Linked DNA regions of Homo sapiens: region 2 is linked to region 1. Evidence: fine-mapped expression QTL. Tissue or cell type: unexposed skin. Region 1 holds a variant in brackets; the other region holds the start of a gene. All regions are shown on one strand. Distances are from middle to middle.

Evidence for each region. PIP is the estimated chance that this variant, and not a neighbour inherited with it, causes the effect.
Region 2: TTI1 starts here. The variant in region 1 is fine-mapped to the expression of TTI1 in unexposed skin (GTEx, PIP above 0.99).

What each region holds. Positions count from the first base shown.
Region 1 is chr20:38,068,465-38,076,816 of GRCh38, forward strand. The region is part of intron 6 of RPRD1B (regulation of nuclear pre-mRNA domain containing 1B); the gene reads left to right. Among named protein-coding and RNA genes, the nearest start is that of RPRD1B, 39 kb to the left of the region's middle. RefSeq lists an enhancer at 4,901-5,010. The variant G/C (reference allele first, on the strand shown) is at 4,146.
Region 2 is chr20:38,029,126-38,037,125 of GRCh38, forward strand. It overlaps TTI1 (TELO2 interacting protein 1), which reads right to left and starts at 4,331. Exons shown (of 8, transcript NM_001303457.2): 1 at 4,279-4,331. RPRD1B (regulation of nuclear pre-mRNA domain containing 1B) reads left to right here and starts at 4,621. Exons shown (of 7, transcript NM_021215.4): 1 at 4,621-4,973. The coding sequence starts at 4,823. LOC124904898 (a long non-coding RNA gene) reads left to right here and starts at 4,981. Exons shown (of 2, transcript XR_007067579.1): 1 at 4,981-6,280. RefSeq lists enhancers at 4,062-4,657, 4,188-4,457, 4,658-5,253.

The DNA of each region.
Region 1 (8,352 bases):
TCACTGCAGCCTCCACCTCCCAGGCTCAACCAATCCCCCGTCTCAGCCTCCTGAGTAGCTGGGATTATAGATTATAGGCATGTACTACCACGCCCGGCTAATTTTTTTTGTTTTTAGCAGAGACAGAGTTTCACCATATTGGCCAGGCTGGTCTTGAACTCCTGACGTCAAGTGATCTGGCCGCTTCACAATATAAGATTTGAGAGATGGTTTTAGTTCTTTTCTTTATCCACGCTTGCTAAAAATTTAGGCAGTCTGCTCTCCTGAACCTAAGATTTTTCTCTCACATTCTGTAATAGACTGGTCCTGTCCCATCACATCCCTATGGTGGTGGCCGAACTTGATAAATGTATGCCCCTTGAAAGATGCGTGAATACTGTGAATTCCTTCAGATTGTCCAAAAGTCTCTCTGCGTGATGGGGCAGTACATAAAGTTTACCCACTTTTTTAACATTCATTTTTGTAACACAGCCAGTCCGTTTTAAAACTTCCAAATCAGAATGCTAATTAAATATTTTATTTTTTAATCCTTTCATTGCCTTCAGGATATACATAGATGAAATTCTCAGAACTCTTTGGAGAAGTAGTTATTTGCTTGCGAGTCTGTTTTCATCCCAAAGCTCTAATATACTTAGGTTTTGTGCTTTCCTTTTTAACTTTGTATCTTGCTTTATGTAATAAGCATCTTTTTCTCTTTCACTTGGGAATTTTATGTCGGTGGCTCCTGCATGTCAGGATAGGGCGTGTGATGATTCAGAGCCTAGGATGTAGGAGAGGGAATTACGGCTCAAAGTAGGAGATTGTGTTTCTTCCCTCGAGGAAATCATATTCTGGTATAAAAAACACAGGTGAACATAAAACCAAACCACTTGATCGTACATAATGTAGATTAAGGAGGCATTTGGCGGTTCTGATTGTGGTTTAAGGTAAGTCCAAACTTCCTGTCAGGCAATAAAACCTTTTTGTAAAAGGAACTAGCAGTTGAAGAAGAGAAGCATGTTTATAAATGGGGAGCAGTTAGACTGGACCAGACAGGTATCTGAAGAAAGACAAAGTCAGATGTGGGAAGGAGGTGCTGCAGACCACCAGTGGGAGATTAAGGTCTGTGCTCTTTAAGAAGCTACGTATTCATTCAGGGAGTCAGCAAAGCCTGTGCCAGCCAGATGTACAAAGATGGGCACGATGCACTTCTCCCCTCAAAGGGCTTATGCTCTAGTCAGGGGGAAATAGCAGCAAACAAGGGGTTAGGGTAGAATTCAAGATAGGTTGTCAGTAAGGAAAATATTCTCACTTGTGTCTACCTTGAAATAGACCAAGAAAAAAATGAAGATGCTAATAATAATTTGATCAGATGCTTATTAAAATTGTGAGAGTTATCAAATCATGGACAGTTTCTGAAACTGTAATGCCTTCAGCAGGTCTCCCAAAGTTTGCTAGACTGTATACTCTTTGAGTGCTCTCACAGTGCCAGGAACATATTTGTTCCTCAGTAAATACTTGTTCTGTGAAATCCATCACTTGATGTAACCTTTTTCTATAGAGAAAAGGGTTTTTTTTTAAGGTTGCATTAAAAGTGGCTTAACAAATCTGATTTAATGATTGGTTGTAAAGAATATGTTAGTACGGAAAGGTAACCATTTTTAGAAGTTTCTGTAGGTTTTCTCCTTTGTACTACTTTTCTTTTTTCCTTTAAGTAGAATTATGCTTTATTCTGAGATAATCATCTTTTTTTGTTTGTTTGTTTTTGACTTTTGCTTCAGGGTGTCATGATTGACTTTGGCCTATGATGTTGGCCCTTAAACACCAGGCAAGGGTGGAAGGAATGCTGCTGAAAATCTGTGGGTAATGTTTTTGTCATGAACATGAGAAAACCTAGAAATGGAGAAGGCACGTGGAAGGAAGCACAAATGGCAGCCCAAAGAGGAGGTTAGAGAATGTGGAGGGTATAGAAGAAAGCCCATTCAGAAAGGCAAAGGCCAAAGATACCAGAAAAGCCTTCCAGCTTCACTTCCAGAGCAAAGAGAAGCTTTGTTTGTGGTTGACAGAGGTGACTACATTACTCCCAGATGTCTGCTCAAAGCTCATAAGACATAGCGTGAGTGGGTTGGATAGGGTTCCTGTCTTGTCAGCGTGAATAAAGCATGATACAGACATGTTCTGTTAGCATGATCAGTGCATGTGGAAGAGTGTGTGTGTGAGAAAGAAACCTATTTGTACAAGTATTAAGGAAAGAAAAAAGGTCAGGAACCTGCAGTTTTCCCTTCTTAACTGTGATTTTTTTTTTTTTTTTTTTGAGACAGACTCTTGCTCTGTTGCCCAGGGCTAGAGTGCAGTAGAGCAATCTGAGCTCACTGCCTCCCGGGTTCAAGCGATTCTCGTGCCTCAGCCTCCCGAGTAGCTGGGACTACAGGCGCATGCCACCACACCCAGCTAATTTTTGTATTTTTAGTAGAGATGGGGTTTTGCCATGTTGGGCAGGCTGGTCTCGAACTCCTGATCTCAGGTGATCCACCTGCCTTGGCCTCCCAAAGTGTTGGAATTACAGGCATGCGCCTCCATGCCTGGCCTTAACTGTGAATTTTATTCAGATCATGGTGTCTGACTGTCAGCGATCTAGAACTGAAAGCAGATAGTCCTGTGTTGACCCACATGCCACATGGTGCACACACACAAAGATGATATGCCACACAGGGAAGAGCTCTTGAGAAATTTGTTCCAAGCTGCAGATTTATTGTTTTAGTTGAGGTGAAATTCATATAACGTAAATTAACCATGCACTTCAAAGTGCACACATTTTGGTGGCATTTAGTACGTTCACAGTATTGTATCAAGTTCCAAAACATAATTGTGTCTGGCTTCTTTCGGCACGATGTTTTCAAGATTCATCCCATGTTGTAGCATATATCAGTACTTCATCTCTTTTATGGTAGAACACTAATCTGTTGTATGGATGTGACACAGTTTATAACCTGTCTATGGACATTTGAGTTGTTGCCACCTTTTGGCTCTTATGAATAGTGTTGCTATAAACAGTCATGTGGAGGTTTTTGTGTGGCCATATCTTTTCATTTCTCTTGGTTATGTATAAATCTAGGAGTGGAATTGCTGGGTCATATGGTAATTCTATGTAACATTTTGAGGAACCATCAGACTGTTTTCCACAGCAGCTACATCATTTTACATCCCCACTAGCAATGTGCGTGGGTTCCAGTTTCTCCACATCCTCATCAACATTTGTTATTGTCTCTTTATTTTCGACAACCTACATGTGCAGGTTTATCTCATTGTGATTTTGATTTGCATTTTGCTAATTACTAACGATACTGATCATCTTTCAGTATGCTTGTCGGCTGTTTATCTTTGGAGAAATGTGTGTTCAATTCCTTTGCCCATTTTCAAATTGGGTTATTTGCTTTTTTTGAGTTGTAAAAGTTCTTTATATATTGTGGATAATATACCTTTATCACATAAATGATTTGCAACTATTTTCTCCTATAAGTTGTCTTTTCACTTTCTAGGTAATATCCTTTGATGTGCAAAAGTTTTTTATTTTTATGAGTTCCAATTTATCTATTTTTGTGGTTGTTGCTCATGCTTTTGGTGTCACATGTAATAATCTGTTGCCAATCCCAGGTCATGACAATTTTTTTCTGTGTTTTCTTCTAGAAGTTTTATAATTTTATGTCTTAAATTTACGTTCTTAATCTGTTTTGAGTTAGTTTTTGTATGTGGTGTGATGTAGGGGGGGACCAACTTCATTCTTTTGCCTGTAGATATCCATTTGTCCCAGCACCATTTGTTGAAGAGACTACTCTTTTCCTCCACCTGAATGCCCAGCACCCTTGTCAAAAATCAATTGGCCACAGATGTATTGGTTTATTTCTGGATTCTCAATTCTATTCCATTAATGTATATGTCTATCCTATGCTCATACCACACTATCTCCATCACTGTAGTTTTGTAGTAAGTTTTAAAATCAGTAAGTATGAGTCCTCAGAGTTCTTTTTCAGTATTGTTTTGGCTATTTAGGATCGCTTGCAATTCCCTATGAATTTAACAATCACCTTTTCCATTTCTGCAAAAAAGGTAATTGAAGTTTTACTAGGGAATGCATTGAGTCTGCGGGTCACTTTGGGGAGTATTGC[G/C]ATTTTAGCAGTCTTAAGTGTTTCAGCTCATGAACAGGGGATGTCTTCACATTTATTTAAGTCTTCAATTTCTGCTGCAGAATTTTAAAAAGCACTCTAGGAGAGTGTCATTTACTGATGCATTTGATATTATAAAGGCCCTGTCTAGGTTTTGGGACCACAGATGGAGGGCAGTGGTATCACCTTTCAATAATGTTAACCCCCACCTCTAGAAGATATGAGTATTTTGTGTATGGACTCAATGGAGTCACCAGGGCACAGTCACAACAGCAGCTTTACAAAGTAAAGTGACACATAGAGGCCTGGATATCTAAGTAAAGTGATTAGCAGGATTATTGAGCTGGACAGAACCTTAGAGATCATATAATCAGACTTCTGAATTGGTGAAGAAACCTAGAGAGAGAGGTAGCTGCAGACCAGCATAGAGTCCAAGGCAGACATCTGGTAACTTCATCAGATTTGTACTTTTGTTTTGATTTCAGAATTTTGATTCTGCAACATCAACAGCAGGAAGACATCTTACACAGAATAGTAGCCAAAGTTTAATCATTTAAACAGTTCCCAAGAATCTTGTTGTAGAGAAATGACATTTTATGTGGGGTCATAAAATGATTGCATGAAAGCATTCTAAGTGTGAAAGAACCTACTCTGCCACCAAGGTTCTAAGTACCTGCCTCGCTGTACCCCTGCTCACGCTCTTGCTCTGATAGGAGGGGAGAAATTGGCTCATGAACTTAAAGCTGCTGGTGTTTCTCCTCGCTTGGCACCTCCCCCTTGGCTGTAATGACTACTCAGGAGTAGAGCCTCTGACTTCAGACAACACAGCTGGGAAGGGGGAAATGGTTCAGAATCCAACATTGCCTTATGACTCTTCATATTTCTGTTTGATTGTGGTTATAACAACTTGAGAAATTCTTTGGCTACAGTTGAAGGGGTGCTCAACCAAAATGATGGCAGATTGTTGTTTTTGGCAGCACCTCCCTGCAGGGTGCAGATGGTTAGAAGCTTTTGTTTCAATATTAGGCCAGGCAGTAGGGGGAGATAGAGAGCTCCTTTTTTGTCAACTTTGGAGTAAATTCGTCTTTCCTATGATGATCAAAGCCAGTATCTCAGTGTCCTATCATGGTAAGGACAGATGGGAGCCGGTGATCTAATTGTCATTTTAGGTAAGAGCCCTTGGGTTTATGTGAACACTTCAGGGTCACAGAGGAAGCCAGTGAGGACCAGTACCTGGATCTTCTGACTCCTAACTACAGTGATCATCCACTGTGTTCTCCTGGGAGCTGAGAGGCCCTGCCTAGTGCCGGCCCCCTCCTCTCAGTCCTCTAAACTCACTGCCCTTCTGTAGTATTCAAGTCTGTCCTCCCTAGGCTGGCAGCTCTGTCAGCACCCAGGTTGTTAGAATAGTTGTTAAAACAGGTCATTCTGTTGCCAAGTAATTACGGGGCCTTGCACTCAGTACCTTCCCACGAAGCAGGCCGTAGTGTGCTTACTGCTCTCCCTTGCCTTTCCATCCCCTACTTTGATGTGGGAGTTTTCTTTCTTTTTACTTTTCTTTTATTTTCTTTTTTTCCGCCAGTTTCCCTCCAATATGTGAGGACTTTTATTGAGTTAATGTGTGGGCTTCTGTGAGTGATTTGGAGTTCCTTGGATTTCTTTTATTCATTTTAGTCTACTGACCCTACTGCTTAGGCCCAGTTTATAGCTGGAGCTTTTATCTGTTGGGTGTGTGTGTGTTTCTTTATTACAATGTGAAACCTATGATACTTATTTTTCACTCCAGGAAAATAATGCCACATTATAATGTACTTCACATACTTAGTGACTTAAGAACATGATTTGCCAACATTTGAGACTTTGAGACTTTACATTGAAAAAGTGACACGGTTTTAAGGCTTTCCCAGCAAGAATTCATGCCTTTAGCCATAGTACCGTTTTCATATTTGTAGCCCAACTTCTGTGGGCAGTGTAACCCCTGCTTGATGGAACAGTGCCACTGAGTTTCAGCTGGTATATGTAGCACTAATTTTTCATATTTATGGAATGCATATAATATGAAGTTAAAACAGCACCTGGGCCTCTTATTACTCCTGCCTGCCAGAACATTCACTCTGGTTCAACTAGTACTCAGGGTTTTTGTTTTTGTTTTTGTTTTCTTTTTTTGATTGTAAAAGTAATACATCAGAGGAAACTTAGCAAATAAGTATAAAGAATAAAATTAGTCTCATTACCCAGAGATAACTATTTTTAATTTTTGCGTATTTCCTTTTCCTCTTAGTTTAAAATTAAACTGAATGATAACTTGCAGATAATTTTCTGTCATGCTTTTTTCTTAACATGATTATTTTTCCTTGTAAATAAAAACTTTATAAACATTGTAAATGATTGCTTGAATACCTGTGGTTGGATAGTCAATGATTATTTGTATTGAGCACTTGTATGTTTCTGTCTCTGTCTCTTAGCTTTAGGCTAACTTTCAGTGTTTGGATTATTTTCTTCCTGTAGATTTCTAGAAGTGGTTCTATGTATATGTGCAGATGTCTGCTTGTCTTTTAAGTATACTGAAGGTCATATACATTTCACGGTCTCTGCCACCAGAATGCGTTCCTGCTGTAGGAGTTCTTGTCTTTTCCAAAGCATCTTAACCAGTCTAGGACTTCATTGAGCTTATTTTGTATAAACCTCTATACAAGTTAAGGATTAGTCTTTTGTTTTATGAAGGAGTAAACACAGAATAGTTTAATTAGACTAATGGAGCTCTCTTCTGGCTTTTAAATGATCTTGTTTACATTTGAGATAGCTGTGTGAAAATAGCACATACTTCTACTATAACATTGACTTGAGTGAGCATAATATTGAGAGCAAGGTTCAGATTGCAGAAATTTGAGCTGCCTGTTTGACCTAGTGGGTGCAAGTTATTTTGAGCAAGGTTCTATTTTAGTCTTTATGAATGTTCTTACTACTGTTAAGGTGGGCCTTCTACTCCCACTTAAAATTGGGATTCTGAAGAAAGTTAAAATTGGATTGTGGCATACTTTGCAATCTTGGAAGTTAATCTCTGACTTTGTTTTTCTGTCTCTAAAATGTTAGACTTGAAATAGATCAGAAAGAGTCATTTTCTGAGATCAGGGCAAAGTATTCTGGTTATAATCAGGAGTCAAGTGAAACCTTTGCAGATGAAAGCCATGAGCCCCAAAGATATGGCATGCTTTATGTGAAGAGGATGGTACTAGCCAGCTGTCATGATGGCTGTGCAAGCCTCCTTATTTGTTTTTTTCCTTATTGAGGTCCTTTATCTTTAAACATCTGTAGGAAGAAGTATGATTAGCTCTCTTTGCCTAATTCTGCCAGTAGCTACTTTGAGAATTTCAAGCACAATAACTTCGCAAACTTCAACTCAACAAAAATTTACCAGCAGCCTTTCTGAGAATTATTGGGGTTTGGACAGTAATTATGAATGGACAAATCCTACTTTTACTCATGATGTCCTTTTCCCAGTCCTTTCCTTTTGCTCACAGTGTGTCTGTTCTGTGGGGCATAGACTCAGTAGGAATTGTTCCCTTTAAGATACCATTTACCCCAATTATGGTGCAGTGATGATGATCTGCTTTGCATATTTCAGGTTCTTTTTGGCTTTTTCCATTGAAGCCAGTGGTCCTCCCAGCGTTTTATCTTTGATGTGACTTTTCATTGATAAAGTAACACTTTACCTTCCTGGGACAACAGATTCCAACACCTTAACTAATCTGAAGTTGTTAGCTTCCACCTTCCCTCGTCACATGGGACCTTTAGGGCCAATTTATTTTCCTGCCCACATGAGAAGTCTCCAGTAAACTAGCTGAAGGTCCTCAGCATGTAGCATGCTTTGTCTCTCCAGTGTTTAAAAGAAATCATCACATTCACATGAGCATACCCTCTGCACCACCCTCCCTTTATAACTACCACCATATCCACTTCCCTTGCTGCCTCTGCTTCTCAGCCTGTTGCAGCTTGGCATGCATGTCTACATTCCACCCAAGTGGCTGTCTTCAGAATTTCCCCCCTTCCCCCCACCCCTGCCCCCAGTGGTCTAATCTCAAAACCCAAAAGGTACTTCTTAGTCTCTGCCTCTTGGCTCCCTTTCTCTTTTTGGCCCTGTCTGCAGCATTTAATATTACTGTATTACAATGTATTTGCATTTCTGGTTTCTGTGTACCACCCTCTGCTG
Region 2 (8,000 bases), 40 kb before region 1:
ATCAAGCTTGAAATCACTAACACAGAGATAACAGGAAAATCTCCAAATACTTGGAAACTAAACAACATGTTTCTAAATAATCCACGGAACAGAGAGGAAACCTTAAGGGAAATTAGAAAAAAAATAGGGAAATGAATGAAAATGAAAATATGACACACCAAAATCTGTGGATACAGCTATAGCCATGCTGAGATGTAAATTAATAGTACTAAGTCATATATTAGAAAAGGGGAAAAGTCTCAAACGAAAAAGGTAAACTCCTACCACAAGAACCTAGACAAAGTAGAGCAAAATAAAGCAAGCAGAAGAAATAATAAGGAGCAGAAACTGACAAAACTGAAAACAGAAAACACAGAAAGTCAATGAAATAAATAACTGGTTCTTTGAAAAGGTCAATAAAATTGACAAACTTCTAGCAAGATTGACAAGGGAGTGAGTGAGCAAGAGAGAGAGAGAGAGAGAGAGGAGAGAGAAGAGACGAGACACTGATACTGGAAATTTCCAATATCAGTAATGAAACGGGACAGTACTACAGACCCTGCAGACATCAAAGGGTAATATGGGAATGCTATGGTTTGAATATCCGTCCCTTCCAAAACTCATGTTGAAATTTAATTCCCAATGTATTGAGAAGTGGAGTCTTTATAAGCCCTCATAAATGGATTAATGGGTTATCATGGGAACTGGTGGCTTTATAAGAGCAAAACAGACCTCAGCTAGCACACTCAGCCCCCTGGCCCTGTGATATCCTGCACTGCCTTGGGACTCTGCAGAGTCCCCACCAGCAAGAAAGTTTTTTACCTGATGTGGCCCTGTGACCTTGGATTTCTCAGCCTCCATAACTGTAAGAAATACATCCTTTTTCTTTATAAATTACCCAGTTTCAGGTATTCTGTTATAAGCAACAGAAAACAAAGACAGGGAATACCACAAATAGCTTTACCCATATAAATTTGACAACTTTGATGAAGTGGTTAATTCCTCAAAAAACACAACCACAATAGGAAAGAGATTATTTTAACAGCTTTATAACTTTTAAATAAACTGAATTTGTCACTTAAAAACTCCAGAAAAAAAAGGAAGAAGGGAAGGAAGGGAGGGAGGGAGGAGGGAGGAAGGAGGAAGGAGGGAGGGAGGGAAGCAGGGAGTGGAGGGAATCTCCAAACCAAGATGGTTTCATTGGAGAATTCCGCCAAACATTTAATGAAGAATTAACACCAATTCTGCACATACTCTTCTAGAAAAAGAAGAAACACTTTCCAATCCATTTTATAAAGCCAGTATTATCCTGATACCAAACCAAAGGCAATACAAAAATTAAAAAAATCTATAGACCAATTTCTCTCATGAGTATAGATGCAAAAATCCTAAAGAAAATATTAGGAAATTCAGCAGTATGTAAAACACACACACACACACACACACACACACACACACCATGATAAAGTGGGGTATATTTCAGAGATGCAAGACTGGCTCAATATTTGAAAATCAATTAGAGTTGTTAATACTAACAAGCTATTAACAAGCTTAAGAAGAAAAATCACATAATCATATCATCCTCACCTTTCAGACCTCTATATGTTGAAGAATCCTAGGACTCAGTCTCTTTTTACACCTTATTCCGTTATGACTCTCACATTTTTATCTCTAACCCAGATAGCTCTTCCTTGAATTCCAGACCCATAAACCCAACTGCCCCTTAGACATCTATACTCAGATAGGCATTTCCAAATGGACATGTCCAAATACAAATGCTTGCTCTTACTCTCCAAACCCACTCTTTTCTGTAATTCAGTAAATGGAAGCGCTATTCTTATAGTTGCTTAGGCCAAAACCCTTGGAGCTATCTCAACTCTCATATGTCTTTCACACCCCATATCCAATCTATCAGCGGATCCTGTTACCTCTTCCTCTAAAATATCCCCAGAACTGTCCCTTTCTTACCACTTCCACAGATACCACCCTGGTTTGAGTTATCCTTTCACCTGGGTTACTACAACAGCTGCCAAACTGGTCCTTCCTGCTTCTACCTTTGCACTCTTACTGTCTTATTTTCTACCTAACAGCCACAATGCTCCTTCTTTGTGCAAAACTGCCCAGTGGACTTCATTTCATTCAGAGTAACATCTAAAGTCTATACTATTGCCTACAAGTCACCATGTGATGCAGTCCCTTCGTACTTTTCTGAACTAATTTCCAGCCACCCTTCTAGTTCATATCACTCCAGCTTTATTGTCCTCTCTGCTGTTGCTCCAAAATGCCAACAATGGTATAAACTTGGTTTTCCCTCTTCCTGGAACAATGGCATATGGCTTGTCTCTCAAATGACATCTTATCAATGAGGCCTTCTCTGAGAAGCATAAGTAAAAGACTACCCACCTACACATATACATTCCTTATCCTCCTTATCTCCTTGATTTTTATTGAAGTTACTTACCACTTTCTGACTTATTCTAAACTTGCATGTTTGTTTTTCTATCTTTCTCAGTAGAAAGTAAGTTCCTGAGAACGTGGATTTTGTCTGTTAGCTTAGAAGAGTGCTTTGGACATAGGTGCTGAAAAATTATTTTCCGAATGAATGAATAAACTATTGGTTCAGGAGGCAAGAATTTGGGATCAGACATAAGATAACCCTAATTTGACTCCTGGCTCTGCTATTTCCTAACTATGTCCAAGTACATAGGGTACTTAACCATGCTTTACATTTTCTCGTCTATCAAATAGTGATTGTAATAATTTCAACTCCTAAGACTGATGTAAGAATTAAATTTAAAAAGTATGTAATGTGCTTAATAGACAGTGACTTGGTATAAAAGTGCTCAGTATATGACAGTGTTATTAATATGGAAAGATGATCTAGATTTCGACACAAAAGCCCTCAGTTATGACTAGATACTCACTGTATGATTTTAGGTTACTCACCTCTTTTACACTAACTCACTTGATAAATCAGGAACTGGGGCCAAAAAGATGGCTAAGTTGCAGCCCCTTCCCTCAAGTCTTAGTAATGTGATCTTGGGTAGGTCACTTAACCTCTCTGAGCCTGTTTCCTACGCTGTCCAAAGGGGGATAATATAATACCTCACAGCTTTGTTGTGAGGATTAAATGAGTTACTGTGTGGGAATTGTGTCTAGCACATAGTAACCTCTCACTGCGTTAGCTATGATTATGATTCCAGTCTGGAGGAAGGGTAAAAGCATGTAAGCAAAGAACTGCAATACAGTGCAATAAGAGCAAAAGCAGGCATCAACTAGAAGAACGTCTCCTAAACTAGAGTCTGCCCACAACTAGGAAGTTATACCACGATCAGGAAATTTTAAAACCCTCTTATGTCTATAACTTAACTCCCTACCATCACCCCCGTGGCAGTAAGAAAAACAAAATTTCTCTGCTGCTTTGATACCTGGGATTTAAAACTTAAAAAAAAAATAGGGTCAAGGTTTAGAGTCTCAGATAGTGTTTTGTTTTGTTTCAGAGAAGAGTCTCGCTCCATCGCCCAGGCTGGAGTGCAGTGGCACGATCATAGCTCACTGTAACCTCTAACTCCTGGGCTCAAGGTATCCTCTCGCGTAGCTGGAACTGCAGGTGAGCGTCACCATGCCTGGCTAATTTTCGCTGTTACCCAGGCTGGTCTTGAACTCCAGTCCTCAAGCTATCCTCTCGCCTCGGCCTCCCAAAGGGTTGGGATTACAAGCAAGAGACGTTGCGCCAGGCCTCAAATAGTGTGTCTCAACATGAGGTCAACAGACACATTGGGAAGGCTAAGTTAGTTCCCTCCACCTTTTCCCTAAAGTTAACACCTCACTTAAGTTCGAAAAAGTCAACTGGACCCGCAGACGGCAAAAGCAGCACGTAATAATACCCTGAGTGAGAACCCACTTAAGAGCCGAGAGCCCAAATGTGTGTTTCATGACGGCGCTGTTACAGACTAAAAGGTCAAAACAGGACATTAAAGGGTGCTCCGGGGGGCTGAGTAGGAGCTCACCAGGTGAGAAAGGGGATGTCACTTTCGGACAGAGAACGAGCGCCAGGGCGTGGAGGCGTGAAAAGGGCACGTGGGTGGCTTGGAAGAACCAAAACTAAGTGTTTTGGGGGACAGCCAGAGAGCCGAACACATATGGAGGAAAGATGCGGCCTGGGGCCCGCCAGATTAGAAAGGAAATCCCCCTCCCATATCCAGATCATGATCTCTCAGACTCAATGTCCCCTCAGGATACCCCTCTACAGGGTCCCAGCTGCTGGGCTCCCTCTGGTTCCCGCCACTCTTCCCTTACCTCGTCTTCCAGCCTTTCTCTCACTCTCCCGCCTCCTCTGCCTCGCCGGAAGTGACGCGCTAAGTAGCGCGCCGTATCGCGCCAGAAAGGTTCCGAGGGAGCGGGAAAAAGGGTTCCGGCGAGATCCACTGCGCCGGTGTGCAGGCTCGAGCGGTCAAAGCTCTTTCCGGGGGCCCGGGGAACTACTCTCCTTGCCTCGCTCTGTCTCCTTCGAAGTGCTCTGCGCGAGGTTCAGAGCGGCCGCCGCCTCCAAAGGGACGGTTTTCTAGAGCTCCGACGCCTCTCGGTGCCCCTCTGCTCCGGCCCTTGCCCTTTGACCTCGCTCTCGCGGCAGGGTGAGAGGTCGGGTGGCCATCTTGTGGCGGCGGCGCGGGCGGCTGTTACTGCGGAGACCCATCCCCTCCCCCTTCTCGCACCCCTGGCAGTCTGTCAGTCGGTAAAAAGTCCCGCAGCCTGTCAGGTGAGGCCCCGGCCTCGTGCCGTCGCTCTTCCCGCCGCACTGGGCGGCCCAGGCCGCTCCCTGCCGGGCCTCACTGCCGCCACCATGTCCTCCTTCTCTGAGTCGGCGCTGGAGAAGAAGCTCTCGGAGCTGAGCAACTCTCAGCAGAGCGTGCAGACCCTGTCCCTTTGGCTCATCCACCACCGCAAGCACGCGGGACCCATCGTCTCCGTGTGGCACCGCGAGCTCCGCAAAGGTAAACACCAAATCCCCACCCCCTGGACGGTCCCCGGATTGTCCTCTCGCCCACATACAACCTAGGCCCCTCTAAGCCTCTTCATTGAGCCTTGCTTTCCAGGCCTGATCGAGCTTCTGAGATGGGAGACAAAGTTAGCCCCATTTCTCGAAGAAGGAAACTGAGGCCCGGGAAGGTTTAAGGTACTTGCCTGAGGGTCCACGGACTGGGACTCAGGTGTCCAGACTTCTAGTTCATCAAGCCATTTTCCCTTCAGTTTCCCCCTGACATTTGTGGCTGTTATTATCTCGGCTGCATTCACTGCCGTACTGGCCCTAGCATGTCGGGCCCAGTGCTGGGTATTTGGAGTAAAAGCCAGTGGGCTCCGGAGTCAGACTCTGCAGATCGAGTCCTGGCTCAGCTATTTGCCAGCTGAATAATACTGGGAGAGTTTCTTCATCTCCCTGTGTCTCCGTTTTCTCATCTGTAAGAGGGAGGCAAGGATAGCTACCCCTTACAAAGCCTTTACTTCATACCAGTCACTATACTAAGACCTTTGTGTGTATCCTCGCACTCAGTCCTTAGAACAGCCCTGTGAAGTAGGTAGTCTCTCCCATCTTAGGTTAAGGGGCCACCCAGACCTTACCTCTCCTCTCCTCTCCTCTCTCATGCAGTTGTCATTGATTTCAGGCCCTGCTCAGGTTCTGACAGACAATTCATTGAACTCATTCTGTTATGTGCCAGGCACTGGCTTGGACACTTGCAGCATGTTGCCTCTGCCAACTGCCTAGAATTTAAGCCTGACTTTGCCGCCTTACTGACCCCAGCAACTTAACCTGTCTGTGCCTTAATTTTCTTATCTACAGAATGGATAACTGAAATTTACTATGTCTTTATTACATGCGAAGTGCAGTACTGATATCTTTACATACATTGCCATTAAAAAAAATTCTCGGAGCCCTATGAAGTAGGAACTTTGCAGAAGAGGAAAAACTGAGACTCATCTCGTGGTGAGGAGTAAACGGGATAATCCAAATGAACATTTAGCATGGGGTGAGGCACAGTGTAGGCATTCAGCAGATTATGGTGAGATGAGACTTTTGATTACTCACTGTGAGGCATGGTCTTTACCTTCAAGTTGCTTACAGTCTGGTGGGGAAAGATGGACACCTACACTCCCGGATGAGTTTCATAATGGAAGACTGAAGAAATGAAGCTCAGAGCTGCTCCAGACACCCTATATGTGGTAGGCCTTTATAGCGAAGTGGCTTTACAAGTGTTCTATACTATCTGTGAGTTGGGGACACCACAGATGTCCTGCTCTACAGGTGAGGAAACTGAAGTGGCTAAGTGGTATTTTCAAGGCTTTCGAACTGAACAGGCTCAGACTACAACAGGCTGGCAAACACCAAAATCTTCATGATTTTTTTCAGGAGACCCAGTTCTAGCCCTTTAGCAGGGACTGCCCCCAAATATCGCGTACTGTACTGAGATAGGGATCCCCTCAGCCCTTCGGGCAGTTCCGGGAAGAGGTAGAGCCTGGAGTTTATGGGGCCTTCTTCATGTACCCCACTGTGCCATTCAGAAATTATTTGAAGAGTGTGCTGAAATGTGAATTGCCACTGTACAGAATTCTATTGGGTGGGACCTCAAGAGGCAGTTAAAGTCCATCTCAGGTGTCATTTTTTTTGTTTTTTTTTTTTTGAGATGGGGGTCTCGCTCTGTCACCCAGGCTGAAGTGCAGTGGTGCGATCTCAGCTCACTGCAAGCTCCACCTCCCGGGTTCATGCCATTCTCCTGCCTCAGCCTCCCGAGTAGCTGGAACTACAGGGGCCCGCCACCACACCCAGCTAATTTTTTGTATTTTTAGTAGAGATGGGGTTTCACTGTGTTAGCCAGGATGGTCTTGATCTCCTGACCTTGTGATGCCCCCGCCTCGGCCTCCCAAAGTGCTGGTATTACAGGTGTGAGCCACCACGCCTGGCCAAGTGTCACTTCTTTTGTGACACTTTCTTGATTCCTTGCCTCACCCTAGTTGAGTTACTGAAAAAAAGCAAATTAGAGAGTACATTTGTGTATGAAGCTCCGTTATCCCTAATCTTACGTGGTAAAGCCTTATGTTGCAAGTAGGCTAGCATTATTATCCTCATTTTATAGATGAGATGATAAAGGTATAGAGGGATTAAGTGCCTTGTCCACAGACATACAGCTAGGACATGAGCCCAGGGCTGCCTGATGCCAAAATGTGTTCTTTTTCATGTACTCAGTGCCTCAATGCATTTAATAAGTGAAGGTGGTCACCTGACTGCAATCAAACTGTGGTGCTTTCATTTATTAGAATTAATGAGTGCCTCCCACCCCATCATACCAGTTTAGCATTTAATTTGTTCCTACTAGCTGTTCATTTGAACTGGTTACATCTTTGTCATTAGATTATGTTTTGAGAGAGGAACTAGACCTTCTTGTTTATTTGCAACACCACAGGATATCGCGTGGTGCCTGTTATATAGTTTAAAAATAGGAATTAAATCATGGTCTCTGATAGAATTTTCGTGGTTGAGTAAAGGATCTAAACAGCGCTATCCAATACAACTTTCTATGATAGCAGCATAAAGGATATAAACAGCGCTATCTAATACAATTTTCTGTGATAATAGCAATGTTTTCTATCTGTGCCATCCAACAGGTAGCCGCTTGGTATATGTGGCTATGGAGCACTTAAAATGTGTGACTAAGGAACTAAAGTTTTAAGTAGATAGAATTGAAAATTTAGTTTCCAGTTTTTACCAGCTGCAATTCAGGTGTTCCAATAGCCACACGTGGCTAGTGGCTAACTTACTGGACAGTGCAGAGTTAAAAAAAGATGCTCTTCCAAGCATCAATACCTAGCTTCCGAATATCCAGGCTTATTTCATGAACTGAAAATGCCCCCACACTGAAAGAAAAGGATTCTGTGCCCTAATGTTCAGATTGATTAGCCCTGTAGGTTCTACCTAGGGTGAAGTCATTTTCCGTAGCTGAGATGCTCACAGACTGTCTCTGAGTTGC